Homo sapiens: one gene and its partners. The protein of the gene in region 7 purifies or fractionates together with the protein of the main gene of each other region. This does not show direct contact. Each region holds a gene or a part of one and is shown on either strand. Other genes may lie near its edges.

Evidence for each region.
Region 1: the proteins of ANTXR1 (region 7) and KIRREL1 purify together in Homo sapiens (affinity purification with mass spectrometry; 3 studies listed by BioGRID and IntAct, with this or other methods). This does not show direct contact.
Region 2: the proteins of ANTXR1 (region 7) and FOXF2 purify together in Homo sapiens (affinity purification with mass spectrometry; 3 studies listed by BioGRID and IntAct, with this or other methods). This does not show direct contact.
Region 3: the proteins of ANTXR1 (region 7) and PC purify together in Homo sapiens (affinity purification with mass spectrometry; 2 studies listed by BioGRID and IntAct, with this or other methods). This does not show direct contact.
Region 4: the proteins of ANTXR1 (region 7) and ERF purify together in Homo sapiens (affinity purification with mass spectrometry; 3 studies listed by BioGRID and IntAct, with this or other methods). This does not show direct contact.
Region 5: the proteins of ANTXR1 (region 7) and H6PD purify together in Homo sapiens (affinity purification with mass spectrometry; 3 studies listed by BioGRID and IntAct, with this or other methods). This does not show direct contact.
Region 6: the proteins of ANTXR1 (region 7) and PDIA5 purify together in Homo sapiens (affinity purification with mass spectrometry; 3 studies listed by BioGRID and IntAct, with this or other methods). This does not show direct contact.

Annotation. Positions count from the first base shown.
Region 1 is NC_000001.11:157,992,002-157,996,515, reverse strand, and holds the start of KIRREL1 (kin of IRRE-like protein 1 isoform 1 precursor), read right to left. Parts: upstream 2,872-4,514; 5' UTR 2,840-2,871; coding exon 2,788-2,839; intron 1-2,787. UniProt on the Homo sapiens protein: Required for proper function of the glomerular filtration barrier. It is involved in the maintenance of a stable podocyte architecture with interdigitating foot processes connected by specialized cell-cell junctions, known as the slit diaphragm.
Region 2 is NC_000006.12:1,392,239-1,396,183, reverse strand, and holds the end of FOXF2 (forkhead box protein F2), read right to left. Parts: intron 1,489-3,945; coding exon 1,325-1,488; 3' UTR 581-1,324; downstream 1-580. UniProt on the Homo sapiens protein: Probable transcription activator for a number of lung-specific genes. Mediates up-regulation of the E3 ligase IRF2BPL and drives ubiquitination and degradation of CTNNB1.
Region 3 is NC_000011.10:66,948,333-66,952,249, forward strand, and holds part of PC (pyruvate carboxylase, mitochondrial precursor), read right to left. Parts: intron 1-3,917. UniProt on the Homo sapiens protein: Pyruvate carboxylase catalyzes a 2-step reaction, involving the ATP-dependent carboxylation of the covalently attached biotin in the first step and the transfer of the carboxyl group to pyruvate in the second.
Region 4 is NC_000019.10:42,249,427-42,252,373, forward strand, and holds part of ERF (ETS domain-containing transcription factor ERF), read right to left. Parts: intron 2,015-2,947; exon of another isoform or gene 1,963-2,014; intron 1,739-1,962; exon of another isoform or gene 1,520-1,738; intron 1,140-1,519; coding exon 905-1,139; intron 517-904; coding exon 401-516; intron 313-400; coding exon 1-312. UniProt on the Homo sapiens protein: Potent transcriptional repressor that binds to the H1 element of the Ets2 promoter. May regulate other genes involved in cellular proliferation.
Region 5 is NC_000001.11:9,244,446-9,248,362, reverse strand, and holds part of H6PD (GDH/6PGL endoplasmic bifunctional protein isoform 2 precursor), read right to left. Parts: intron 3,439-3,917; coding exon of another isoform or gene 3,429-3,438; coding exon 2,802-3,428; intron 1,398-2,801; coding exon 1,280-1,397; intron 1-1,279. UniProt on the Homo sapiens protein: Bifunctional enzyme localized in the lumen of the endoplasmic reticulum that catalyzes the first two steps of the oxidative branch of the pentose phosphate pathway/shunt, an alternative to glycolysis and a major source of reducing power and metabolic intermediates for biosynthetic processes.
Region 6 is NC_000003.12:123,065,479-123,069,901, forward strand, and holds the start of PDIA5 (protein disulfide-isomerase A5 precursor), read left to right. Parts: upstream 1-1,546; 5' UTR 1,547-1,686; coding exon 1,687-1,728; intron 1,729-4,423.
Region 7 is NC_000002.12:69,180,568-69,184,484, reverse strand, and holds part of ANTXR1 (anthrax toxin receptor 1 isoform 1 precursor), read right to left. Parts: intron 2,700-3,917; coding exon 2,604-2,699; intron 1,993-2,603; coding exon 1,825-1,992; intron 1-1,824. UniProt on the Homo sapiens protein: Plays a role in cell attachment and migration. Interacts with extracellular matrix proteins and with the actin cytoskeleton and thereby plays an important role in normal extracellular matrix (ECM) homeostasis.

The DNA of each region.
Region 1 (4,514 bases), on a different chromosome or scaffold from region 7:
GGGGGAGCTCTGGGGGCTGGGTGGGCTTATTTTTCTCCTGCCCCCACATCCATCCCCCCCACGGAGGCAGCTCCCTCCCCGAGCCGGCCTGTCATCCCACATTGCTCTGATTAGCTATAATCTTTCTTTTTCAATTTCTCCTCCCCGAGACTAGGGAGCGAGAAAATCTCCCAGAAAATGAATAAATATTTCAATTTTCGGCGCAATCAGTCTGTGGAGCCGGCGCATGATGGAAACGGGGGGAAGGATAATGGTTTTCATTTAGATAAGATACAGAAAATTATTTAGTGAAAAATGAAGATTGATGAAGCCCATTGAAATTCTTTAAAATGCGATTTTTATTTCTCAGCCTAGGCTGAATCTCCCCTTCCCCTCTCCTCTCTGCTCCCCTCAATTCTATGGCTTCCTGCTGACACCTACTCCCCCATCCCTATTCCCCCACCATCATTCCTCCTCCCTTTTGTAGCGCCCCCCTCCGTTTCCTCTCTCACTGCCCCAGTCCCTGACCTAGAGCTCCTTTCTGAGGATGGAGGCTAAGGAAAGGGGGTCCTGCCAAGCTCTCCACCCCCATGTGTGTCCCAGTCTCCCCAGACCCCTACTCCTTCCCTCTCTGCCTCCTCCCCAGTCCCTTGCCAAGCTTCCCCCAACACTCACTAGTGATTTCCCCTCCCCTCCTGTCTAGTCTCTCCCTTTCTTTTCTCTGGTATCCTCTCCCCCAACCCCAGACACTTTCACCAGGTCCTGCTTTCACCCCTGTTGGAGCAGAGAAGTGGGAGCTCAGCATTCCCTAGCCACTCGCTCCTTTCCAAAGAGAGAAAGGCACACAACACACAATTCTTTCTGTCCCCAATTCAATCCACATGTCTCTCCTGTTTGCTAACTGCTGCTTTTGTTCCTTAACACTCATTTGTATCCATGATGCTGACATGTAAGGGCTGTAAGAAAGGGACAGACATAAGCTTGCCCCCAACATAGACCAATACTGACCCAGGGGCCTCCTCCACCACCAACATGACCCCCCTCCACCACCACCATGGCCCACCCCCTTCCTCCCCGACACCAACAGCCTGGCTGAACAAAGTCAGAACTTAAGTCATCTTCCCAACTTTCTGCCAAGTGGCTGGCCTGGCCTGCCAACCCCAGGGCCAGGCCTCCTCCTTTCCCCTAGCACCACCTCCCACTCCTGGCTCACACCACAGATGTGTGCCCTTCCCATATCATAGTGTGTGCTGGGGGGCTGGCATGGGTGCCCTGTGGGGAGAAATGAATCAAGACGTGCCCCCACCAACTCAGCCAGGCTTTGCCTTCGGAACTGGGAAGAGACCCGACAAGGAGAGGAAAGGTCCAGCATAACACACCACCTACAAACGCAGGAAGGGAACAGAAAGCAGGGCAATAATGCCTGAGGCTGTTCTACCCAGATCCATTCCCAGACACCCCCTAAAAGAGGACACCTCCTCCATCTGCAGTCTGTACATCTCCATAGGTGTCTGCCCATATGAATGTCTGTTCAAGTTTCTTTGTTTGCTAGAGGGTTGGTTTCTGTGAGAGCGTGTGTCCTGTCCTTGTAAACGCCTGCATACATGTACTGTGTATAGTTGTAACGTTCGGGTGGATGAATGCGTGAGTGTGTGCCGATCTGGGGGAGGAATCTGTCTTCCTCAGATGTCTCCGTGTCTTTGTGTATATGTGTCTGTCTCAGTGTGGGGGATGTTTGTGGGGATGTCTCTCTCTCAGTAGGTGAGTAGTCTGTCTCAGTGTCTGTGAGTGTTTTACGGTGTTTGTGTGTCAATTTCTGTGTGTCAGCTCCATTTTTGGGGAGGGAAGGAGTTCAGCAGGATTCAGTCTTCCTTAGAGTCAGACCTGGGAGGCAAGAACCAACTCCCACAGACCCCAGTCCCTGCTGCAGTCTGGACCCTTGGTTCCCTCAGCCCTCTTCCCTCCCCCAACCCCAGCCCTGCCCAGGATACACTGACATCCTCATCTCTCCCAACCACCTCCCTCACCTCCCAGCCTCTCCCCTGCCAGTGTCAAATAAGCCCCAGACAGCAACACTTTCCTGAGCCCAAGTAGAGTGTCAGCCCCCTCCCCCCACCGCCTCTGCCCCCGCCCCCGTGAGTTCCCCCCCTCTGTATCAAGCGGGCCTGAAGCTGTATGTGGAACTCCACTCTCCACCCAGAGCCTCCGTGGGCAGGGGTTCCAAATCCCCACTAGAGGCGCCGAGACACCCCTCCCTTCCTCTAGAGGGGGCAGCCCCAGGCAGGCTGGAGCCGTGATTCAGACTCAGACCCCCGAGGGGCTGGGCTGGAGTAGGGGGATCCCCTTGGCAACATCTTCGGGAGGTGGGACCCAGCTTTTCGCTCACCCCCTCGCCCGAAATCCGAAATCCCACCCTCTTCCCAGCCTTGCCCTTAGGCTGGACTCAGGCGTCCGGAACCCCGGCCTCAGAGGGCGAGGGTCGGTAGGGCTGCCAGAAGCTCAAGAGAAAGCGTTCGGTTCCCCGTTTTACTCGGACCTCCAGCCCTCGCGGCCCCATTGCTCGGTTCTCCCGCGCAGCCAGAGGAAACAACTTGGGCAAATCAACGGCAAACTCATTCTCCCCAGCCCCTCGTTACTCCGCGCCCCCTCCCCCAGGGCTCTGCGCCCGGACCGAGCCCCCGCCTCGTGGCGTCCGGACCCGGGGACTGGCCGCGGGCCGCGGGGCACTCCAGCACTCTCCCACCGGGGAAGCAGTGCCCCGGCCCCGGGGGGAAGCCGAGCGTCCGGGGGTGGGCTGGGGGCCCTTACCTTGGGAGAAAGTATCGGAGAGAGTGAGGATCCAGACGAGGAGGCTCAGCATGCTGTCCGCCCGCCGTGCGCCCGCCCGCGGCTGGGGCCCGGAGTTGGCGAGCGAGCCAGAGGAGCGGGCTGGGGAGGAGGGGAGCCCGGGAGCCCGGGAGCCCGCCCCCCGCCCGCCCGCGCCCGCCCCTGCACACACACACGCGCGCGCGCACACTCACGCGCACAAACTCATTTCCCTGCCCTCCGATTCTCTTTATCTCTCTTTCCTCCCAGACCTTTTTCTCCTCCTGGTCGCCCTCCCCCTTTAATTATTTCTCCTCTCAAGCTGTATCTCTCTGGGTCTCTTTCGGTCTTTGCTCCCCCTTTCTCTCCCCTTCTCTTCCTTCCCTCTCTCCCTCCCTGCCTCCCTGCCTGCCTGCCTCCCTCCCTCCGCCTGACGTCTACTCTCCCTCCGACGGCGCCTCCCTCCACGAGCCCTCCCCCTGCCCCCCCACAACGCGCGCACACACATACCCCCCTCGCTGGAACTGAGATGGAAGGAGAGCAAAGAGGGAAAGGAATTGAGGGCAAAGGCAAAAGGGGGTGAAAAATGTGACCGTCGTGGGTTCTGGGGCAGGCACGACGGGACCCCTGGCCACCCCACCCCCTCCTATTTATAGACGCAATCTTGGTCGCGGGCTATGGAACTAAGCAGTGGAGGAGGAACATGGGCTGAGGGACATCAGCCTCTAGCTCAGAGGATGTGATGGGGAGTGTGTGTGTGTGTGTGTGTGTGTGTGTGTTTCCGTGTGTGTGTCTAGGAGTGGGGTGGGGGGCAGGGAGTTAAATAAACATAAAGACCTTTCTTTTTAAATTCCACACCCAAAGTCTAGCCCCTAGATTCCCCAAATTAAGAATTCTCAATTGACTAATGAATGCTTGGATAAGGGAGGGGCATACATGCCTCTCCCCACCTATAAAACCCAGAACTGGAGAATGGGAGCTGCCTCTTGGACCTGCCTTGAGGCCCTGCCTTGGCTTCACCCAGTCAAGGTTGAGCACAGCTAGGCGTTGGAGGACTCAGCGGCCTGGAAGAGGCACAGTTGACCCTTCCTTTGTTCATCTTAGCCTTCCACCCATCCCGAAGGAGAAGGTAGCCAACTGGATGGCTTTGAAGGGCCAAGACCTGGCCTCACCTCCCTGAATGCAAGCCAGAGGAGAAGACAGCCACCAGTCAGATCTCTAAGCACGCTGGAGTTTGAGATCTTTTGGGGTAGGGACATGGAGGAACTAGGAAGGAAGGGAATTCCTGAGAATCATGAGAGCATTCAGGAGGGATCTCCACTTTCTTAAGGGCCCAGTTTGGCAACCAGCTCCTCTTCTCACCCCTGACCAGATACTTCTGCTCACAGGATTGCTCGGGTAGCCAGAGGTCTGGACCCTAGGGAATGGACAGAGAAGTTGCTGGAATTGCACAATTTTACAGTAATGTGTTGGTCCAAAGAGGTCTCCACTTCTTTCCTCCCAGATCCCAGATCTCCTGGGTCTCTAACACTCCCCGCCAAGTTTTCTCAATTTCTGCCCCTGAAAGTAGGTGCGTGGCTCTCTGGTGCCCTCTGTTGATGTGTAGCGGCCACAGCTCCTCTTTCCTCCGCAGATACTAACACCAGCCTGTGGTCCAGACGCATCCACACACAATTAGAAGACAGAGAAAGGCAGGAAAACACCCAAGCTCATATGCAGAAGCCCCATAT
Region 2 (3,945 bases), on a different chromosome or scaffold from region 7:
AGCCTGCCCCCTGCAGCTCAGGGATCCCCCTGCATTCTTCAGATCTGAACCCCATTTCTGACAGCATGTGACCGCCACCCATAACAAAATTGCAACGTGCAAAGGGAAGAAGCAGGGTGCTGTTCTTTGGGCATCCAACCCTGGAGGGGGGCTTACCACTGTGCCCCACATCTGTCAACCCATGCCAGTCGGGAGGGAGAGAGGGCAAAGGGCAGAACACTCCCCGGGCACAGGAAAGAAAACAGAAGGGGCACAAAATTGGTTTCCTCAAAATCAAACCCTGGTCGGTATCTTGCCTGGTTTTCTTTCTAGTTCCTTTCACCTTCTGGTTTTTGTTTTGCCAGAAAAAGCTGGGGTGAAGTAAAGAAAGAAATAACAGAAAACGTTTCTTCCACTGTTTTTCTCCTGAGAAGACTCACAATCAGAACCTGGCCTGTGTTACTCAAGGCACAGACCCCACACCATGTCAGTTACACCACTGGAGGGGGTGTGGGTAGAGTTGCACAGCTGCCTGCCGGGGAGGAGAAACTGGCATCCATTGCTCTCAGGGTGCCCGAAGAGAAAATCAGCCCCTAAAACAACTATTTGTTATATACATTTTATTGAAAAAAAATTTTACAACAAAATATTTTGGCAAACTGTAAAAGTATACATAAGTGCAAATATATCCTCCTTTTAAAATACAAGCAAAGTGTGAGTATACACGGTCATAAAAATATCTTTAAAATATGGTGGTAGAAAACAACCTTGTAAAAACGTTGTATTGTCACAATACTGAAAACCACTTTCTTAAACTAGACACATTGTTTCTAAATAATTCCTTAATAATGTTCTTTGGCACCTGTATCCAAATGTAGTGTCTGGGGAAAATGACTCTCCCACTCAGCTAGGCAACAAGAAGAGGCTTTCTTGAAATCTTGTGCTTAGCACTGCCTTTTTGAAAAGCACACAAGTTTTCTTAGACACACACACACACACACAACTTGTCTGCTTTTTTCACACCCTGATTACTGAAGGCAACGAAGATCCCACAGATACACGTTGATGCCTTACGCATGGCACATCTTCCCACCTGAGTCTGCCCTCTCCCTCATGTGGGAGCCTGCAGGTATTCAGATTGGGGAACGCTACCTTGCCAGCGGTTGTCCTTCTTCCAGCAGTAGGCAAATAACAGTGACCAACGCGATCCTGGGCATTCTGGCTAAGTGGCAGGTGTGTGGCTTACTGCTATCCGCGTGCATGTGACTTGAATCCGTCCCAGTTTCTATCTGCCCCCTCTGAGGAGGGGAGAGGAGAGAGCGGCCATCGCTTGGCCTCTTTCCGTTCACATGACGCAGGGCTTAATATCCTGACAGACGCTCTGGTGGTGATGGTGATAATACGACCCGCTAGCTGAGGGATGGAAAGAAGAAATCCCATTGAAGTTGAGGACGAAATCTTTTCTGTCACACACTGGAGTAGAGTGATGCTGGTAACGGGGCAGTCCCACTGAAAGAAGAAAGAAAAAAAAACCTCTTCAGAAACAAAGTCATCCAGTGGATGGCAGGGTGTCTTATTTTGCCTCAGAGTACAAAAGGTGCTGCTGTGCCTTTTAGTAAATTGCTAGACAGCTGGTAGAGAAAGCCCAGCTTTAGAAGTAGCTCAAACACACCAACTGCACGTCATAGAATTGCTTTGGAATCATTATGTTTTGTTTTGATGCTCGCACAAACACAGAGCAAGTTCCCCCTCGAGGGGGATTCTTATGTCCTGGAATTCCAATTTTATTCTCTGAGGCTGGGGCGTGCACTTTAATCTCAGAATGAGCACAGGTACCGGACAACTAGACCCAGACTCTGGTTCCGGGTCTCTCCCGGCAGAGCTCCTGGCCTGTGCTGCCCTGAGCCCTGGCTTCAGGGAGGGCCAAGCACCCTACCCCAGAAACACCACTGCGGCCTTCTTTCTGAGCCTTGTTTCCCAACTAACTGGGCCGGTCACAGCAGCGAGCGCAGAGGACTCCCTGTGCCAAAGGGGACGATAGAAAACAACCCAATCGCAAGATGAAGGGATGGGGCAGAAAAGCACGCCTCTTCTCCTGCCCCTCCGCAGGCATCTTCGTGGGTCCCGAACGTCTTAGACTTCCTCTAGAGAAGCCGGGACTTCAGGGCGCAGAGAAATGCCCTTTGGTCCGAAGCATCTGGCAGCGCGAGGAGTCCCTGAGGTAGCCCCAGGCTGGAGGGGGACAGAGAAGGCCTGGACCCTGCTCTCCCGGGGCGGCTCCCCGGTCCCCGGCCTGCACCGGGCCGCTTGACCTCCACCCGCCGCCGGCTTTTGCTTTTGCTTTCTCGGCGCCTCCTGGCCCCGGGGCGCAATCGGCCCGCAGTGCCCTGCGCACTGGGCCCCAGAGGCTGCTGGACCGGGCCCTCTCGGCACCGGGCTGCGTTAGGTCCATTCGCCCGGGTCTTTTCTTAGTTAACCGAGTGGTGTGGGGACCATAAAGTGCACGTCGCTTCGGGCCGGATTCAGTTTTTCAGTGCAAGAAAACCGTAACCACGGCCCGCCGGGCTCGGGCCCTGCTCTCGTGGCCTCAGCCCCGCCGTGTCCCCGCAATGCCGGAGCGAGGCGGCTGCTCAGGGGCCGCTGCCTACTTCCTTGCCCGCAACACCTACCCGAACACACCCGGCGCTGCGCTAACGCAGCTGCCCTGTCCCGCGAGCCCCGATGTGTGCGCGGCGCTCTGCACACAGGTGAGTTCCCTCGTCGCGTTAAAGCAAGTTCTGATGGCAAGTCCTGGACCACAAAATAGCAGGCTCGGGAGGAGAGAGGGCGAGCGCTCACACCTGCCCACGAAGGCGGCCGTCGGCGCTTTGATGTGCTGAGCGGGATGACAGAAGCCCGAGCTCCTTCCTGAAGTGCTCGCAGGGCTTAATGGAGAACTCCAGGGCAGCCCCTGCGCCGGCAGGGGCACATGGACCATGGCCACCAGGCCCAGGAGCGGAGGGCGCGGCCCTTGGGGTGTGCTGGGGGAGGGAGGGTCGTGCTGGGTGTGTGCGCGTAGACATGTGCTGATCTGTGTGCCGGGGAGACTGCCTTGGCCACCCCCGCGCCTCGCCGGGCCCCCAGGCCTCAGTGGGCGGCGCGCTCCCAACTAGGCCCCGCGGGGTCCCGGTGCATCCGGCCGGCTCCTCCGAAGCCTCCACCGCTGGCGCTCCAGGGAGATGGCAACAGGGCCGGGTGGGTATCCTATAGGGACGGGAGCAAGACAGCGAGGAAGGAAGGGCAGAGGGTCCCTGTCGGGCGTCAGGCCCGAGCTATTGTCTCCCCCGGGCGTTCCCAGACTCGGTCGGGGGTTCTGCGAGGCTCCCAGGGAAGGCCGGCCGCGGGAGGCCGCTGGGTAGGGGCACAGAGGCCGGCTTGCTTTGCTGGGCAGTTTTCACCCCCTCCAAGACAGTAATGTATCCAGATTCCGAAGTTTTGGGAGCTTGTGCCTGCGCCCAGTGTTATGAGGTGGGGCGAGAGCAGCCTTGAGGAAGGGTCAGGAGTCTCTTTCCTGTGTGCTTTTTTTTCTTCCTAGAGTACGGTTTCTCCAAGGCTGCTAAGCCTCAGAGTCCGGGTTCAAGTTGAGTGGATCTGCCGGGAGAGGAGAAGAAGGGGAGCAGGGAGGGCAGCTGGCAGGCTGGGAGAGGAGCAGGCAGGCGGGGAAGGGAAGGGGCCAGTGCACCGAGGGGTGTGTGTGTGTGTGTGTGTGTGTGTGTGTGTGTGTGTGTGTGATTGACAGCCGGTCCAAGGGAATACAAAAATAAGAGGGGAAGGCCGCCTGTATTGGTTACTTGTTGAAATTCCCATAAAATTGAACAAGACTCTGTTCTCAGTGGGTTAAGTCAGGCTAAAATCCTCTCCGGTGTGGTCCTGCCGAGACTGTCTTTGTTTGGTTAACCTCTGAGACCCACATTTAAAAGGCCTATT
Region 3 (3,917 bases), on a different chromosome or scaffold from region 7:
GAAATTCCAGAAAATGGAAACTAACCTATAGTAACAGAAAGCAGTTCCATGGTTTCCTGAAGAGTGAGGAGGCAGAGGGAGGAATTCCAAAGGTGATGAATGTGTTCACTCTCTGGACTGCAGTGATGGTTTCACAAGGGTACACATATGTTAAAACTTACTAAACTGTATACTTTAAATATGTGCAACTTATTATATCTCAGTAATACTCCAATAAAGCTATTGTAAAAACTAAAATGTATCACGCCTGTAATCCCAGCACTTTGGGAGGCCAAGGCGGGCTGATTGCTTGAGCTCAGGAGTTCGAGATGAGCCTGGGCAATGTGGTGAAACCCCGTCTCCACAAAAAGTACAAAAATTAGCCGGGTGTGGTGGCTTGAACCTGTAGTCCCAGCTACTCAGGAGTCTGAAAAGGGAAGATCACCTGAGCCTAGGAGGTAGAGGTTGCAGTGAGCTGAGACTGTGCCACTGTACTCCAGCCTGAGTGACAGAATCAGACCGTCTCAAAATAAACAAAAATAAACAAACAAAACATAAAACGGTATAGGAAAGTTTAAGAAAAGTGTAATATTCAGCTTCATTTATTAGATTTACAAGAGTCATTTAGGTATTAGAGGGTTTTTTTAATCAGAAAAATGGAAGAATTATTATTATTATTTATTATTATTATTATTTTTTTGAGATGGAGTCTTGCTGTGTCGCCAGGCTGGAGTGCAGTGGCATAATCTCAGCTCACTGCAACCTCCGCCTCCCGGGTTCAAGCGATTCTCCTGCCTCAGCCTCCCAAGTAGCTGGGATTACAGGCGCGTGACCACCACACCCAGCTAATTTTTGTATTTTTAGTAGCGACAGGGTTTCACCATGTTGGCCAGGATGGTCTCAATCTCTTGACCTCGTGATCTGCCCGCCTTGGCCTCCCAAAGTGCTAGGATTACAGGCGTGAGCCACCCACCATGCCCGGCCAGAAGAATTATTAAAATAGTTAACTGAAGTTGAATATGATTTATAAGTTCAATTGAAACATTTCAGAAGTTTCATCAAATTTGCAAATGGGACCAAGCATTAATCAAAAAGCCCCCTAAGGCCGGGGCGGCGGCTCACGCCTGTAATCCCAGCACTTTGGGAGGCCGAGGCGGGCAGATCACTTGAGTCAGGAGTTCGAGACCAGCCTGACCAACATGAAGAAACCCCGCCTCTACTAAAAATACAAATTAGCCAGCATGGTGGCGGGCGCCTGTAATCCCAGCTACTCAGGAGGCTGAGGCAGAAGAATCGCTTGAACCAGGAGGCGGAGGTTGCAGTGAGCCGAGATCGCGACAGAGCGAGACTCCATCGCAAAAAAAATAAATAAATAAAAGCCCCCTGAAAGTGACTGTTAAAATGTCCTAGAATCGTAAATAGATCAGAAAGATTTATAGGCTACACTTATAAGCTAAACTTAAAAGACTGGCCCTTAAAATAACTAGGTTTCTGAATTCATAATTTTAACAAATTGAAAATCAATTGTTTTCGACCAAAGTAATTTCTGAATAATCTTTGCATTACATAAAAATCCAGGGGTAGGAGTGGGTGTGGCATCCAAACCTCCCTCAGACATGCCACGCACCAGTCACCCGAAACTCACCAAGTCGCTTAGTCTCTAGTCTCTCTGAACCTCTGGTTCCTCACACATTGCAAGAGACAAATATTTTCCAGAATAAATAATATACTTATTATTAATGATTTAATATTAATACATTTCACATTGATACACAGCATGTACATGAGAAGAGGCTCCAAAGCAGCATAAAGTGATGTGCAAACGTAATAAATGGGCAGCATGTGTCACTTCATAGTAACTGCAGCACTCAGTGACAGACAAGAGAAAGGTGACACACATCCCCAGAGACTAAGTATGACTCAGCATGGCCAGGTCGTGGAATTTTCCCAAAGCCTCGTTGTGATGTCATGGTGGATGTCATCAGGAAAGGAGCTGCCACAGAAGCAGTCAGGCCCTTCCACACACAGGCAGTGGAAATGTACTCCCAGCTGTCCCGTGCCCTCCCGGCCCCACCTCTTTCTCTGGCCTCGAGGCATATCAGGACAAGGAGGTAACACAAGAGTAGGAAACCCGAGGTAGTGCTGGGAGTACCTGGGGTAACGCCTTCAGGCATAACACTTAACAACACAACAAAGGGCCACATCCATGTCCCCCCAGGAGAAAGCTGAAGAGGAGGGGAGGGTGACAAGCTTAGACTACAGAGCCTTAGTCCCTAGGCAAAGCTCAAGTCAGCAGTGCCTTGGGAACTGAGGAGCCAAACAAGCTTTGACAAATTACATAACCTGGAAGAAGAGGTCCCTTCTTGGTGACTGATTTTCCCTCTCTATTGATGGATCTAAGGGAAGACATCAATAAAATATGGCAATTTTAAAAGAAGAATAAACAATGGGATCAGCATCTTGGATTCTGCTAAGCAGCCTTCTCTAGGCTTCAGTTTCTTCAGTTCCATAAGACAAGTGGTTTGGGGGGAACCTTCCCCAACATGCCCACCTCTCATTGTAGGGATGCAAGTAAGAGAAATAACATCCAACTCTAGCAGCCAAGAATAAGAGGACAGAGCAAGCAGAGAGAGAACAAGGGGGTGAAACTCGTGGAGGGTGGAGTTCTTCCACGTTACGGCCATTCCCACCATGAGCCCATTGCCCTTACTCAATGGTAGCACGCAGACGGCACCTGCTGGCCCAAGACCTAGCTCCAAGGGAGGACTGCGGGAAATCTCACACAGGAAACCAGCTCCTGCGTCATGAAGGGTCGTCAGAGGAAAACCCCCACATAATGGGTGGAAAACCGAGAAAAACTCCTATACCAAGGAATCCCCACTCAGCACTGGATATGAGCTCTGGAGAAAGTTGTCCCTGAGCCACAAAGTCCCCAAGGCCACAGCGGGCCTGAAGGGAAGAGCATTATTGTTGTCACAAATGCTGGGAGAGCACCTGGTTCCCTGGCTCGGCTGCTCCTGCAGACCAGCAGGGGGAGAGGGGACTGGACTAGCAGGGGACCGGCGGGAGGGCTGTGGAATTTAGGCTGAGGGGAGGCCACTGAATCTCCCAGGCACCTGCCACCATGGAAATCCATGTTGGGGGAACTGTAAAAGCAGTAGAGGCCGGACGCGCTGGCTCACACCTGTAATCCCAGCATCTGGGGAGGCCGAAGAGGGCGGATCACCTGAGGTCAGGAGTTCGAGACCAGCCTGACCAACATGGTAAAATCCCATCTCTACTAAAAATACAAAAATTAGGCCGGGCACAGTGGTTCATGCCTGTAATCCCAGCACTTTGAGGGGCTGAGGTGGGTGGATCACAAGATCAAGAGATTGAGACCATCCTGGCCAACATGGTAAAACCCCGTCTCTACTAAAAATACAAAAATTAGCTGGGCATGGCAGCACACACCTGTAGTCCCAGCTACTCGGGAGGCTGAGGCAGGAGAATTGCTTGAACCCAGGAGGCAGAGGTTGCAGTAAGCCGAGCTTGCGCCACTGCACTCCAGCCTGGCAACAGAGCAAGACTCCGTCTCAAAAAAAAAAAAGAAAAAAAAAAACTTAGCCAGGTGTGGTGGCACATGCCTGTAAAATGTGCAGGGGAAGAAGGGCAGGTCCCTTTTTCCCCGTTGTTACCGTGACTGGCAAAGGTTGAGCGTCACCCTCTGGAAACCCGTGTCAAGTGACTTTACAACCAGCTGGCAGAACCACCTCACACCACAGCTGCCTGCTCTCCATGCTGACTCAAGGGGTCTTCTCAGAGACGGCCCAGCCCCAGGGATTCTTCCTGCCCAGCTTCCCAAGCTGACCATACCCTTCCAGAACCAGGGCCTTCTGCTGAGGCTGGCCAGCTGCCAAATGGGGCCAGCAGGGAGCCAGATGTCACTTTCCTGTAAA
Region 4 (2,947 bases), on a different chromosome or scaffold from region 7:
GGTCATGGGGCAGGCGGGCCAGCGGGGGCCCTCGGAAGGCACCCAGATCCGGAGGGCCGGGTGGTCGGGCGCGGGGATCCTCTCCCAGCGGTTCCTCCAGCTCTGACGTGCCATCACTACAGTCACTGACTGAGCCTCGGCCCAGGCGGCGGGCCACCACAGCCGAGAAGAGGGAAGATGAAGATGAAGAGCAGGCTGGTGGTGAGCGGGGGTCCTCGGTGGGGGACAGCACCTCGGAGGGCGTTGAGGGAGGGAAGCGGAAGTGGCTACCACCCGACGGCACTGGCGGGGCACTCTGGGGCACTGCACCCCCTGGCAGAAGGGAGACAGTGTCAAGGCCCCTGGCCTAGCCTGAAGGGGCATGTAGACCCTCTCCACACCAACCATCCCTGGTACTCACCAGCCAACCCCACATCAATGAATGGGTAATTGACCAGCACCAGTTTGTTGAAATTGAACTTGTAGGTGAACCGTTTCCCCTTGGTCTTGTGCAGAATGCGCTTGTTATAGTAATAGCTGTGGGTACAGAAATGCCATTGGGAAGGTCAGGTACGTGGGACCCAGGTCTAGACTCCACACCTTAACACGCACTTAGGTGTGGTTCCCAAAGGCCAACTGAGGAACGTAGGCCACAAAAGACAAATCAAGTGCCCAGAGGGTGGGTACCAGCTCTCTCCTCACATCTAAGGCAGGACTAGAGGATCCACTGGTGACTGTAATCTCTCCTCAGGATACGTCTGTGTTACCAAGGGGCTCAGGGAAGGGCTGGGAGTGGCCCAAGGTCACACAGCTAGGATTTGGCAAAGCCAGGGGTCAGACCCAATGCTTGTTCCCACAGGCAAGGGGCTGTGCAACCCCGGGGGGGCACTCCACATGTGCTCAGGGGTCCCCAGCCCGTCCTCACCGCAGGGCCCGGCTCAGCTTGTCGTAATTCATCTGGGGCTTGCACTTGCGAACGCCCCACAGCCGGGCCACCTCATCAGGGTCTTTGATGACGAATTCCCCGTAGTCCCCCTGCCAGGCAATGACGCCCTGGTACTCCTCCTTCCGCAGCAGCTCCAGGATAAAGTGCCACAGCTGGATCTGCCTTGAGCCAGGGGACGACTCTGGCTTGTAGGCCCAATCCGGGAAGGCAAACCCTGGGGACGGGAGGCAGGGAGTGGCCTGGGGTCAGGCTGCCAAGTCCAGGGCTCTGGGTCCCATCCCAGGGTCCACCTCTGCCCTGCCTTCAACATGGGGAAATCTGTCTCACCTCAGCCAAGTCAAGATCTGATTTAAGAGAAGACAGTGCGTGTCTGTCTGTCTGCATGTGAGGGGCTAGACAGGAGCTGGGGGGGAGGGGAAGCTGGAGCCCGCTCCAGCGACACCGGGAGAAACAGGAAACCGTCGGCGGTGGGTCCCGGGGCCAGTGCCAGGGGGCCAGGCACCAAGCCAGGCTGGCGGGCAGGGCTGCCAGTGGGGGAGGGGCAGGAAGGGGCACACGTGGCCAGCCGGGTTGGGGTACAGCCCCCCAGCTTACCCCCACTCCCATTCAGAGCCAGTTGCACCACCCCAGCTCCTCGGATGTCCTCCTTAGAAACATGCACTGTCTCCTCCGAAGACCCAACAGAGCCCCTACTCCCAACCCCAAGACCTGAGAGGAAGATTTTTTTTTTTTTTCTTAAAAGGACCAGGAGGGGTGGGGTGACTCGGTTGCCGATGAGGTCAGCGCTTGCACACACAGAGGCTTCTGTCTTCCCTGGAGAGTGAAACCCAGACTGTCTGAGAGGCCCCCCAAGCCCTGGACCCTCTGAGCTACACTGCCCTCCCCAGACCCAGGCATCCAGGCCCCACCTGGCTGGAGGGCCCAGCCCAGGCCTGGAGCTTGAGCAGGCACCCTGGAGCTGTCACCCTCTTCCCACTTCTGCCTTCTCATCTTCAGCTCCTTCCCTGCCCACCTGCCTGCCCACCCCCAGCATTAACCTTGGGTAGAGGTTGGCGGTGGGCTGGCTGGTCTCTGGAGGGGGTGGGCAGCCTGGGGTGGGGGGTGGGGGGTGGGGGGACTGCGGTTGTTGTCATTTCCCAACAACAGGGGCCATCAATAATTCAGCACCAGGCAGCCGGTAATGGAGGGGTGGGAGGAGGGAAAGGGGAGGAAGGGAAGGAGTGGGGAGGCAGAGCAGGGTCCCTGGTGCCACTAGAGAGAGAAGGCCAAGGTGGCCAGCTAAAGATGGGCGGCTCCCAAATCCAGTCAGGCTGCAGGGGTCAATCCGCCTCCCTTGGCCCCAGCTCAAACAGGTACCAACAAGGCCTCCAGGCAACACATCCACCCTCAAAGACTCCACCCAAGTCTGGAATCCAACAAGGGATCCTTCCCCTTGGGAATCCAGGGAATCAGTAGTTCCTGCTCCCACAGGGACCACCCCCTCCAAATCCAGAGCTCACTGTAGGCCCCCAACTCCTGCCCAGACTGGGCTGCAGTACCACATAGCCCCCGGAGTCCCTGCCCCATTCAGATATATCCCAGCCTTCCACCAGCCCCTCAGGGTGCCAGGGATATGACCTCCAGCTGTTCACAGACCAGCACCAACAGCCCCTGTTCCATTTAAAAGTGACAGCCTTTGACAACCCCTTCCAGAGACCCCAGAGCACCATCGCTCTCTTGGGAATCTAGGTGTTCAACCCATTATCCTCACCCTTCTAGAGAATCCAGATCACAAGGTCTCCTGCAAGGCCCAGGGTCCTTTGGAACCCAGGTGACCCAGCCACCAGCTTCATGGACCCTCATATCCCCTCCAAAAAGCTCCCAGCCCCTCTCAGGGAACCAAGCTCCATGTTACTTCCACCTCAGCCCCAATCTGGCTCTAGACCTAGAAGGGGGGCCAAAGCCCCTGAGACATCAATCTGGGGGTGGGGGATGTACTGACTTCCACCCTCCCCCCAAAATTAAAGCCACCCTTCCCAGCCC
Region 5 (3,917 bases), on a different chromosome or scaffold from region 7:
ACACATTCAGAGAGGAAGGGAGAAGCAGCTGAAGAGAAACCAAGGGGCGGGGGAAAGAAAAAGAGAAAATGGCCCAGAGAAAGAGCAAGGGAGAGAGAAAAAGAGGAGAAACCTCCTGGCCCATCCCTGGGTCCAGGGCTCTGGGCCCTGCCCTGTGGCGGGCACGCACTGCGGGGGCTGGGGGGGCAGTGGCCTCGGGTGCTCCCGCTGCAGCTGCAGAAAGCGGCCGCGGGGATGAGCTGGCCACTGACGCAGCGCTGGCAGCACAGCGCAGCGGCGCCAGGCCTGAGTGCTGGGGCCAGACTGTTGCCCCCAGGATCAGGCTCCACCGCCTTCTACTGTGGGGCTGTGGGCTCGCCACCATCTTCATCTGTAAGGAGGCTAGTAACAGCGCCCACCTCACCTGGCGGCTGGGGACTGGGGACACAGTAAACTTCAGCTCTTATCGTTACTGGGCAAGAGCCAGTGCTTTACATCTTCACGGTCAATGCTCCAAAACTTTGCTACCATCACAGAATGCCAGCTAAGGGACCTTAGCTGTCCTCACCGACAGGACATGCTCATCTCACAGCTGCAAGGAGTGACATGCTGAGGCCACCCAGCTGAAGGCAGCGGTGGGCATGACGCAGGGCCCCCGCCTCCCGGGTGTATACTCAGTGTGTCTGAGGTGTGTGGCAGTGCGGGAGAGGCGGTGTCCTCCTGGAGCCTACAGGCTGGCAGAAGAGACAGGGTGGACAAGGACGAGGCAAGGGTAACACTGTGCAGGGCAGGGGAGGGAGGTGTGTGGCGCCGTGAGGGTGAGGGGAGTGGGCCTGCAGGGCTCAGAAAGTCTTCCTGGAGGGCCATGGAGCTGAGAACTAACAAGCGAGAGAGGGGTCAGAAGGTGAGGGGGACGCGAGGGGGAGTGCCCCAGGCAGGGGGCGCCACGGCTGCAAGCACCACAGTCGGGGAAGCCCTCACGCAGTTCCCATGGTCTCCACGCACTCAAAAACTTGGGGGACCTCAGGGAGACTCCAGCCTCTACCGCGTGCCAGTGGTTTCCCGCCTCTGTGCCAGGCCTACTTCTCTGGACCATACGCTCCTCATGGGCAGCAATGGCTACTTGGGCTTTGCAGCCGGCACCCTGGGGTTTAGCCCGGTTCAGAGCTAGGCACACGGCAGGCTCGAAGGGAGACCACACACCCACAGAAAACCTCCCTCTGAGAAGCGCCCCATGCCTCACCGCAGACAGCGGGCAGGCAGAGGCTGGGGGACCGAGTGCGCAGGGCCACTCACACACCTTCAGCATCCACGGTCTCTTTCATGATGATCTCCACCCGCTCCACATGGTGCCGGTTCCAGAGGCCGTCCAAAGCCTTGCGGTTCTGGTCTCGGAAAGGCAGGATCTGCGCCACAGCCTGTCGGGGGGGGAAGACTGGGCGTGCTGCAGGATACTCTCACGATGAAGGAGGAACCCTGACTCCCGGGAAGGGCTCTGACCTTTCTATTCCCTGCTCAGAGCAGAAGATGCCCTCTGAGCAGTAGTTCTGGACTTCACGATCTCACAGGCCAGTAAAGGTTCCAAAAACTTGCAAGTGACCTCCAAAGGGTTACCAGATTTGTATTTTGCCAAGAAAAAAAGTTAGAATTACCTATCTTCTATTACAATCAATTTTTAATAAAATAAAGATAGGTTTAACACCAAAAATGTAGCAAAGAAAAGCTCTGAATTGAGCACATTCTGTATTTCTTCTCATCTTGCCATAAACAAGTGAAAACCTCCCCAGGACTGGCCCAGTTCTGAGGACCCCTATTTAGGAATCCTACTATGGGCAACTCCAGGCAGGGTGGGATGGAAGGCCATGTCTCTGTCCTCAACAACTGCCTATGCCCACCCGCACCACGTACCAGAACACAGGGCTGCTGCACTCTCTGCCAGGGTTCCTGGGGCAGGATGCCCCCAAGGGCCTCCAAGGCATTTTGAGTGAACTGGTCAACGGACATGTGTCACCCAGGAGGTTAACCCATGCTCCTGCCCAGGACTTAAGGTCCTACTGCTCCCTGGTTTAAGCTCTTGTTGCCAACCTTCTGGCTCAAAACAGAACTCAGGAAGAAAAACATTTTGAAAAAAGGTAGATGGGGCAGGGTGCGGTGGCTCACGCCTGTAATCCCAGCACTTTGGGAGGCCGAAGTGAGCGGATCACTTGAAGTCAGGATTTTGAGACCAGCCTGGCCAACATGGTGAAAACCCATTTCTACTAAAAATGCAAAAAATTAGCCGGGCATGGTGATGCGCGCCTGTACTCCGAGCTACTTGGGAGGCTGAGGCGGGAGAATTGCTGGAACCCAGGAGGCGGAGGTTGCAGTGAGCCGAGATCATGCCACTGCACTCCAGCCTGGTGACAGAGCAGACTCTGTCTAAAAAAAAAAAAAAGGTGGATGGGTGCAGGAGAAGAGAGCTCATTCTGATTCCCACAGCACACCCAACAGGAAGCCAGATCCAGACACCAGAGTTGCTGAGCCACCGCTACAGGGGATGCAGGGCAACCGTGAGAAGCCAGAGCCCAGACTGGGAAACAACGAGAACGGGGGCTTTGCAAAGGACAAAAGAGGCCAGACACATGGACAAGGACCCAACAGTCCTGCCCTGCTGCTGTCTTTCCTTTACCCGCTCGCCTCCTGCCCACCTTCAAGGAGACCATGGGAGCTCTGAGTTCACAATGCCTTGGGGCCTAGCTCCACAATGAGCGAGCGGCTTTGTTGCTGGGGTCTACCAGCGCCCAGCTCACCCTAGCCCTGGCAGGCTCCATGCTGATGCTCACCTGCTTGCCTAAGTAATGGTCCACCCGGTACATCTCCTCCTCCTGGAAAAAGGTCCCGAGTTCTGTGGCCAGCTGCTGGGCTGAGAAGTGGTCATGGCCAAAGGGTTTCTCAAGGACAACCCGCAGCCAGGCGCCCGGGCCTGGCCGGCAGCTACTGTTGATGTTGCGGGCAATGTCTTCATAGGCGAAGGGTGGCACTGAGAAGTAGAAGATCCTGCCAGCCTCCCGGAGGCCTGCGTGCTGGAGCTGTGCCTCGATGTCCTTGTTCAGGGCCTGATAGTCCTCGGCCGTCTTCAGTTGGCGGTACTGGCTCAGCTGCAGGAACTGATCCTTGTGCTCTGCACAGTGACTGGGTGCCATGTCCTTGGGGCAGGAGAGGGATTCCAGGGCCTTGGCCATGAGCTCTTGACCCTGCTTGGGGGCTGTCAGAGCAGCTCCATGGAAGCTAAAACTGTGACCCCTCCCCGCTTCATCCAGGTACAGCTGGAACAGTCCCTGCCATAAGTACTTCTTAGCCAGGTCCCCAGTTGCTCCCAGCAGGATTATGGAGACATGTCCCTGGAGCTCCTGGGCTTGCAGGCAGCCCAGAAGGGCCAAGCACATCGCCACTATGAGCATATTCCACATGCCTGGGTGCCTGGGGTGCAAAGAGAGACAGACGAGGAACAAGGAAGGATCAGACATGGTTCAGGTGGCTACGATGTGGAAACAAACACTTCCTGCCTGGCAAGAAACCACCACGTGTTTCTTAAGAAAATGTTATAAGCCCACAGCTTGTCCCTCCCTCCTGACAGCTTGGCTTCTGTTCCAGGAAGTCAGTGGGTAGGGAGCCTGCCCTGTAGACAGGGACTCTGCCTGGGAAAGTTAGAGACCACTTGCTAGAGATGAACCACTTTGCTGCCAGGAGCATAGGAAAGCGGCAAAGGCCACCAGGGAGGGCCGCAGGCCTGGGAGTGGAGCTGTCCATTTTATGACCAAGGCCAGTCTCTTCTAGGAGCACAGGTCACCCGGACAAGCAGGGCAGCCCCAGCCTAGGTATAGTGGCAGGTCCTCAGGCGACAGTTGGAACAGTGAGAGGGCAGGACCACCTCCTCTCACTTGCCTCTTCTCCATGTC
Region 6 (4,423 bases), on a different chromosome or scaffold from region 7:
CAATAGAGTTCACACTCCTATGAGAATCTAATGCCACCACTGATCTGACAGGAGGCAGAGCTCAGGTGGTAATGCTCGCTGGCCCACAGCTTGCCTCCTGGTTCCTAACAGGCCACAGACTGTCCAGAGGCCCAGCGTTTGGGGACCCCTGCTTTAGCACAGGGAATGGGTTCAATAAAGAGTTTTTTTCTTTTGAAAATTTTTACTCAGGTAAAATTCACATAACATCAATTAACCATTTTAAAGTGTACAGTTTAGTGGCATTTAGTACCTTCACAATGTTGTGGAACCATCATCTCCATCTAGTTCCAAAATGTTTTATCACTCCCAAAGGAGTCCCTATACTCATTAAGCAGTCATTCCCCATTCCTTCCTCCCCACCCCCACTACTATGCTTTCTGTCTCTGTGGATTTACCTATTCTAAATATTTCATAAGATGTAATCACATCATATGTGACTTTTTGTGTCTGGCTTCTTTCATTAGCATACATTTCTGAGATTCATTCATTGTAGAATGTATTAGCATTTTATTCTCTCCCCCCCACCTTTTTTTTTTTTTTTTTTTTTGAGACAGGGTCTCACCCTGTGGCCTAGGCTGGGGTGCAGTGGCATGATCTTGGCTCACTGCAGTCTCCATATCCCAGGTTCAAGCAATCCTCCCGCCTTAGCCTCCCAAGTAGTTGGAACTACAGTCCCTTGCCACCACACCAGCTATTTTATTTTATTTTATTTTTATTTTTAGCAGAGATGAGGTCTTGCTATGTTGCCCAGGCTGGTTTCAAACTCCTAGTCTTACACGATTCTGCTGCCTCAGCTTTCCAAAGTGTTGGGATTACAGTCATGAGCTGCCCTGCTGGGCCACTTTATTCCTTTTAATGGCTAAATAACATTCCATTAGATGGATGTATCACACTTTGTTTACCCATTCATCCTTTGACAGACGTTAGAGTTGTTTCTACCTTTTGGTTATTGTAAATAGTGTTGCTGTGAACACTGGTGTACGTGCATTTGTCTGAATACCTGTTTTCAATTCTTTTGGGTATTAGCCTAAGGGTGGAATTGCTGGTCATATAGTAATCTATGTTTAACTTTTTGAGGAACCACCAGATTGTTTTCCAACAGCTCAATAATGTTTTACTGAAGTTAAATAGAATAAGCAGGAGGGAGTCTGGGAGGCAGGGATGAGGGCTTTTCCTGTCCTTCACAGGCAGCCCTGGACTCTGCCATTTACCGGCTGTGTGATCTGGATCAACGTACTTAAATTCCCTGCGCTGCCTCCTAATCCTCAAAGTGGAGAAAATAAAACCTAATTTCTGTGAGCTGCGTGAGATACTGTTTCTGAAGCTCCAGGCACAGAGTAAGCCCCCGCTCATTAATTGCCTTCCCTTACTCCCTGACCTTGCCTTTTCGCACTTCACTCGCTGCCACGTGGCCTCGGAGCCCAGTCCGCACCCGCAGCCCCCAGCTGAGCCAGGCTGCAGACTACAACTCCCAGCGAGCACTTCTTCCCGGCCGCCTCTCCCCAGCTGCTGCGCATGCTTTGGCAGACGTGGCACCGGGAACTCGGAGGCGGGGAGCGGCTGGGAAGTGGCCGTGGTGGTTGGCCGCGGTGGAGCTAGCAGGCGGGCGGGCGGGAGCGGGCGCCGGAGTGGAGAAAGGAGCCAGCGGTGGGCAGCGCTGCTGGGATGGCGCGGGCCGGGCCGGCGTGGCTGCTGCTGGCAATCTGGGTGAGACTGTGGGGCAGGGATCCGGGCCGGGCCAGCACGTGTGTCCCGCGTGCCCTTCTGCGCTCTCTGCTCCAGCCCTCTGCGGAACGTGCGGGGAGCTGCCCCGGGGCACCGGGATGAGGGCGTGCATGCCAGGCAGGCGGGCACTGGGTGCTACGCGGGAGACAGCGGGCGTCCCGGTGCCCTCGCCGCCAAGCGCTCCCGGACGCAGGGGCAGGAGGCAGCTGTGGGGCGCCGGGAGATCCCTGGCAGGGTGCTTACGCCACGGCCACAACTTTGCGGGGATGCAGGTCGGGGCACAGCCGGTCGGGCAGGACGCCGGCGGGCTGCGGGGTGAGCTCCGCTCCAGACTCCGAGCCCTGCACCTGTGTGAGTGCGGGGTGGGATGGGGGTGCTTACTACCTGCACTGCCGGAAACCTTGGTTTAGGGCCACCTTGTTCTTGGCTTCGGCCCCAGGCGTCTGGGAAACTGCGGGCCACCACCTGGGCCTCCGCCCACAGGCCAGGCTCGGTGGGCTGGGTGGGGTCGACGTAGCCCGCCCCGGCGGAGGAGCTGCTCCTACACCCAACTGAGGCGGGCTCGAGCCTCAGCCACTTTCTAGCTGTGTGACGCGGCGGTTCATTTAATGTATCTGAGCTAGTTTCCTCATGCATGATATAGAAAGGCAAAGCTACCCCCATAGGGTGGTTCTGAGAGTCGGATGAGGTCTCAGTGGAGGAAGCTGTGTAAACTGCAAAATCTTACAAAAGTGGAAAAGGAGTGGACTCCAAGAGTAGTTTGCTACACTTGGTGGGGGGGACTCCAGGCATCCCTGAGAGAGGTCGGAATGGGTGTGCCTGCCGGCCCAGGTCTGGGGTTTGGCCTTCGTTTCGCTGTGGGTGTGTGATGAGATATTGTGGCCTCCTTCCCCATCTTTTCCATAACTTATGCGCTCCCTTATTTTAGGACCATCCTGGTCCTTTTCCCCTGAAGTTCCAGGGAACTTCCTGTTCCTGGCACCCTCCCCCCAACCCAGATTTTCCCGTTCTTTTCCATTTGGGTGTGGCAAGGACACTGGGCAAATGGGAGGAGAAAAGTGTGGGTTGAGTTGCTTGAAACACTTCCATCTCCCAATACCCTGGCCTTTTGGATCACCAGTGAGGAGTGGCCTGGTACTCTCTGGTTGGAAGTGGGTGGGGAAAGAAGCCCCCTGTTCTCTTCGGTCTGTGTTCTCCCTCTTGGGGAGAACCAGGCTGGAGTGGGGCAGTGTCACTTAATTGCGTCTGGGTTTGTTGAATGCTGGTTTGCCATCAGTTCCCTGGAGCCAGTTGGTCTGGGCGGGTCTCTGGGCCAGGAGGAGGGAGCTATCTCCTGAAACGCCCCCCATCGGTCTTTGCACTTGGGCTGAGTAGGAGGTCCTGCTTTCCTCCCTTTCCCCTCCCTTTTGTGAAAACAAACGGCTTGAGAATCTGAAATTTCATTCGGCAGACATTTATTTGTCAATCACATTGTTTGGATTGATATTTTGCCCTCCACTGGGTTAGATTTTGGGCGGAGAGCAAAACACACATTGTACCTGCCGTCTGGTGTTGCCCTGGATTGGGCAAAGGAGTCAGTCCTGTGAGCAAATAATGACAGAACTGCAAGTGCTGTGACCTTAAGTACTAGTATCCTTCACTGAACCGGAGCCATACGTTGATTTAAAGGGAGGTCAGCCATGGCTTTCCTGAGGTGGTAGGGTTGAACAGAGTCTGAAAGATGTGTGGTAGTTAGCTAGGCAGTGGAGGGCTGCAGGTCCCCTTCACCAGGAGGTGCGGAAGAGCAGGTAGGTTTGCTGAAAGCACTAGAACCTGGGAGTCCTGAGCAAGCAATTTCTATCTTCTCCTTTCCCTAAGCCCTAGAGTTGGCTTAGCGGGTAGGAGGTGGAGGGAGCATGCCAACAGGAGCAGTGGTGAGTGATTGCTGGACAGCGCGTTGGGTCTTTGTAAATTTAAATGCTGTATCTATCTGATAAGTGCTCCCCAGGTTCCTGGAAGCCGGTTGGGTTTCTTTGTTCACTCAATATTTACTGAGGGCTGATATGTGCACAGGACTGGGCTGTGACCTGAAGGGTATAAAGGCATCTGCAGGGATTCGTGTACAGGGATATACACCCACCACATTTTTTACAATAGCAAAATGTGGAAATGGGTTAAATGCTCAATAATAGTGGCATGGTTAAATAATATCTGGCCTTGTCCATATCATGGAAAGTGATATTTATCTTTTTCAGTTTGGCCTGCTATAAGAAATATCCCATAGACTGGTGGTGTAGAACAATTGAAATGTATTTTTCACAGTTCTGCAGACCAAAAGTCCGAAATCAGGGTGCCAGCATGGTTGAATTCTAGTGAGGACCCTCCTCCAGAAGACTCTTGACTTCTCACTGTATTCTCATATGATAGAAAGAAGACTAGACAGTTCTCTTGGGTCCCTTTTTCAAGGGCACTAATCCTATTCATGAGCGATCCACCCTCATGACCTAATTACGTACCAAGGGCCCCACCTCCTAACACCACCACTTTGGGGGTTAGGATTTTAACATATGAATTTTCAGGGGAATGACAGAAATACTCAGTCCTGGCCGGGCACAGTTGCTCACACCTGTAATCCCAGCAGTTTGGGAGGCTGAGGCGGGTGGATCACCTGAGGTCAGGAGTTCGAGACCAGCCTGGC
Region 7 (3,917 bases):
TTCATGGCTGAGAATCTGCTTGGCTCCTTCCTGTCTGCACATGCATGCACGCCACTGCATGTTCTTCATTAGAAAATAATTAGAAGCAAACAGCTGTTATTCAAGCAAGCTGCATTTTGCCCACATCTTTCCAGAGTTCAATCCATTACCCCAGAGGGCAGGCTTATCCTAAAAAAAGAATCTCACTGCTTCAAACATGGCAAACCAAAATAGAAATGCGTGGCAATTCAGGTGAGCTTGAGCTAGCTCAGCTGAGGAAAGGTAACCACCAATAACGTTTCGCTACACTGCCTGAAATGGTACTTCTTTTGATTTGTTGGAGAAGCCCTGATCCAAAATTAGCAAATTAACTCAGCGAATGATGAAAATAATCTTTGTTGCTATTGGAAGGGGGGTAAGGCTGTGTGTGTGTGTGTGTGTGAGTGTGTGTATGTGTATGGATGGTGATGGGAGCTGGCTCTATTGAGTCTTTGACTTGAGGCTTTGGAGTTGGTTCGGTTCTGTTTGCAGCTTGAAACTGGAGTCTGTAGCCCTGAGTTGGGGGCCTTGTTTTCCAGACCTCAGCAGAACAAGGACTTTGCCTATCTCAGTATGAAATCAGAGAGTGGGGACAGATTATGTCTAGAGTCTTTTCAGCTATAATTTTCCAGTGCTCTCTGACAAGTGGCATAGTGCAGATGTTTATGGGCATGGCTAAAGATTGAAGGTGTTAACTGAATCATGTGAATTCAAAGCCATTTGGACCAAGAAGAATAGAAAAGAGGCCTTCAGGCTGGGCATGGTGGCCCATGCCTGTAATCTTAGCACTTTGGGAGGCCGAGGTGGGCAGACTGCTTTATCAGGAGTGCAAGACAGGCCTGGGCAACATAGTGAAATCCGTCCCTCAAAAAAAAAAAAAAAAAAAAAAAAACAAAAATTAGCTGGGTGTGGTGGTGCGTGCCCGTAGTCCCAGCTACTTGGGGGTTGAGGTGGGAGGATGGCTTGAGCCTGGGAGGTCGAGGTTGCAGTGAGCAGAGATCACACAACTGCACTCCAGCCTGGGTGACAGAGTGAGAACCTGTCTCAAAAAATAAATAAATAGAAAATAAAAAAGAGGCCTTTAGGAAACATTAACTGCCTCCAACGGTTTACACTTCCCAATAAACCAAAGAGGATTTTAAGATCTGGAGGTGTGGGGGAAAGACAGATGGTGGAGAAAAAAGATTTGCTTACAACCAGAAAGAGTGAGTCCTAGATCCATGACCAGTGAGATTTGCTGGTGGGCCCTGATACACTGGCAGGAGGCGCAAATAAAAGGGAATGGGCTTATATTATGGCAAAAGGAGTAGAGATTAGCATTAAGGAGAAGGCTGCCATTTTTCTTAGATAGTAGATTGTCTGCTAAGTGAAGTTATGAGATGCTATGGAAATTTATAGTCACTCTCTGGGGTTACTACCCAAGTTACTTGACTCACAGTCCATGCTTTTTCCAGTACCTTGCCATGGTGATTTTTTTTTTTTTTTTAATATGGAACACTTCACGAATTTGCATGTCATCCTTGCCCAGGGGTCATGCTAATCTTCTCTATATTGTTCCAGTTTTACTATATGTGCTGCAGAAGTGAGCACCACGGTGATTTTTAAAAAGCCTAGTTTTCAACCCAGATTATGTGGAAATTGACAAAGTAATTACTAGTACTTTCAAGTCCATAATTTTAGATAATTGTTCCCCTGTGATAAGCTGGGTTTTAGGTTGGGATTTTATCATGTGGAAAGATTTTGATTCTTCACTATGTAAGTGTTTTATCAGGACTGATGATAGATTTTTTGAGTAAAGAGACACACCTTGATTGGAGAGTACCACTTCCGGGGGGAAGAAGGCCGACGCATATTGTTGTTGAGATTTCGCGGCTCAGGGAATTCATATTCCTGCTCCGGCATCTTGACTCTTGCATTCTTTGCCTTTTCCAACTTAGCACCTTCTTCTGTGGAGCCCTTTTCTCCCCAACGAACCTAAAATAAACAAAATACAATGAAATGAAATGACAAAATATGCTGCCCCTCGAGAATGAGAATGACAAATACATGCATGAGTTGCAATGTGAATGCTACCCAACCCTGGATTCCTTTGGGTTTTGAGGGCCAGGGAAGAGGGAAACTGTGGAAAAAGAGAAAAGGGGAGGACCAAAGGAGCAGAGAGCTGAGCCACATGGGTGGATATTTAGGGAGGAATTGTCCAGGCAGCGGGGACAGCACATGCAAAGACCTTGCAGGTTCAGGTACGAACTTTGGATTTTATTCCAGTGAGAAAAGAAATCACGAGGACGTTTGAGCTGATGTGTGACCTGCTCTGACTCACGGTGGGCAAGACATGGAAACGCACAGTGAAAGGCTGTCCCTCCTATCTCTCCATCCGTCTGCCTTACAATCCATATCCCCACCAGACCTCAAGGAGGTTTTCAGCAATTTGCTTTGGGTTTCTGACATTGAGTCATCAGTGTGGTCTACGGCCATACTGCCCTGGGCATGCCTGATATCTAGAGGCTAAGCAGGGTCAGGCCCGGCTGGTACCTCGATGGGAGTAGTCAGCACATAGATAAGTGTATATGAAGCTGTCCTCTTACCTCCATTCTTTTAATGCCTCCAACGCCTCTCCCACCATAATAAGAGGCGTCTACCGTTGGCCACTTTTTCTTAGGCAGACCATCATCATCTTCTTCCTGCAGAGAAATTGTGGCACATGAAGGAAGCAAAACAGCACTGCTGTGTGGACCTGCCTACTACAGCCAAGTGATTAGGAGTAGAGCTTATAGAGTCAGACTGCCTGGGTGCAATCCCAGTGCTACTGTTTCCTAGAACCTTGGGCCAATCACTGAAACCACCTAAGCTTGTTTTCCTTATCTGTAGAGTGGGAATGTAAGCAGTGCTACCTGGTAAGTTTGTGGTACAGTCCTGTTCTCTTGTTCTCTTCTACAGCTCTACTCCTTTGTGGGAATCGCATCTAACCCCACCTACATGCTAATGACTTGTGACTTTACATCTTCAGCCCTGATGCTTCTGAACTCCAACTGCTCACTTGACATTCACATTATTTGGGGGCTAAAAAACATCTCAACAACACCACAGCAGAGATGTCCTGATTTCCCTACCCTAAACATGCTCCTCCTGTAGTCTTCCCCACTGCCTCTCTCTTCTTTACTGCCTCTCCCCAACTTGTCCCAACTTGCCAGCTAGTTCTGTTGCTACTACTTAAAGATCTAAAATCTGTTGACTTCTCCATCCCCACCACCACTATCCTGGGCCCAAGCCCCCATGCACTTGCTCATGGACACTGTGGTAGCTTCCCAACTGGCCTCCTGCTGCCCTAAGACTCACCTATGATCTGTTCTCCACAAAGCAGCAGAGTAAGTGCAAACGCCAGCTCTGCCCTGTGTGTTCTGGCCTTTGCTCACCTTTCTGGCCTTCTTCCTTATCATGTGCCCCCCTCCTCCTGAGCTCCAGCCTGCCTGCCCTCTCTCAAATACTCTGGGCAAATTCCTGTCTTGGGGCCTGTGCACAGTGTCCCCTTGTCCCCTTGTCTAGGAAAGCACTTCCCCCACCCCATCTTCTGATGGATGGATTTTCATATTACTCCTCAGAGAAACCTCCCCTGGAAATTTCTTCTAAAGTAGCCGCGGTCTCTTCATTCCATCAATCTGTTTTATTTTTAGTTAAGGATCTCATCATGGCTTGATATTTACTTAATATCTGTCTCTCCACACTAGAACGTACGTTCCACAGAGGCTTTTGTTTGTCATGCTTACAATTGTATTCCCAGTCTTTAGAATAGCACTATGTTGTATGTGGTGGGTGCCCAAGAATTATCTGTTGAATTTACAAATAAGTTAAATAAGATGACTCAAATAAAGCAGTTAATTAAGTGTCTGCAACTTAGCTCA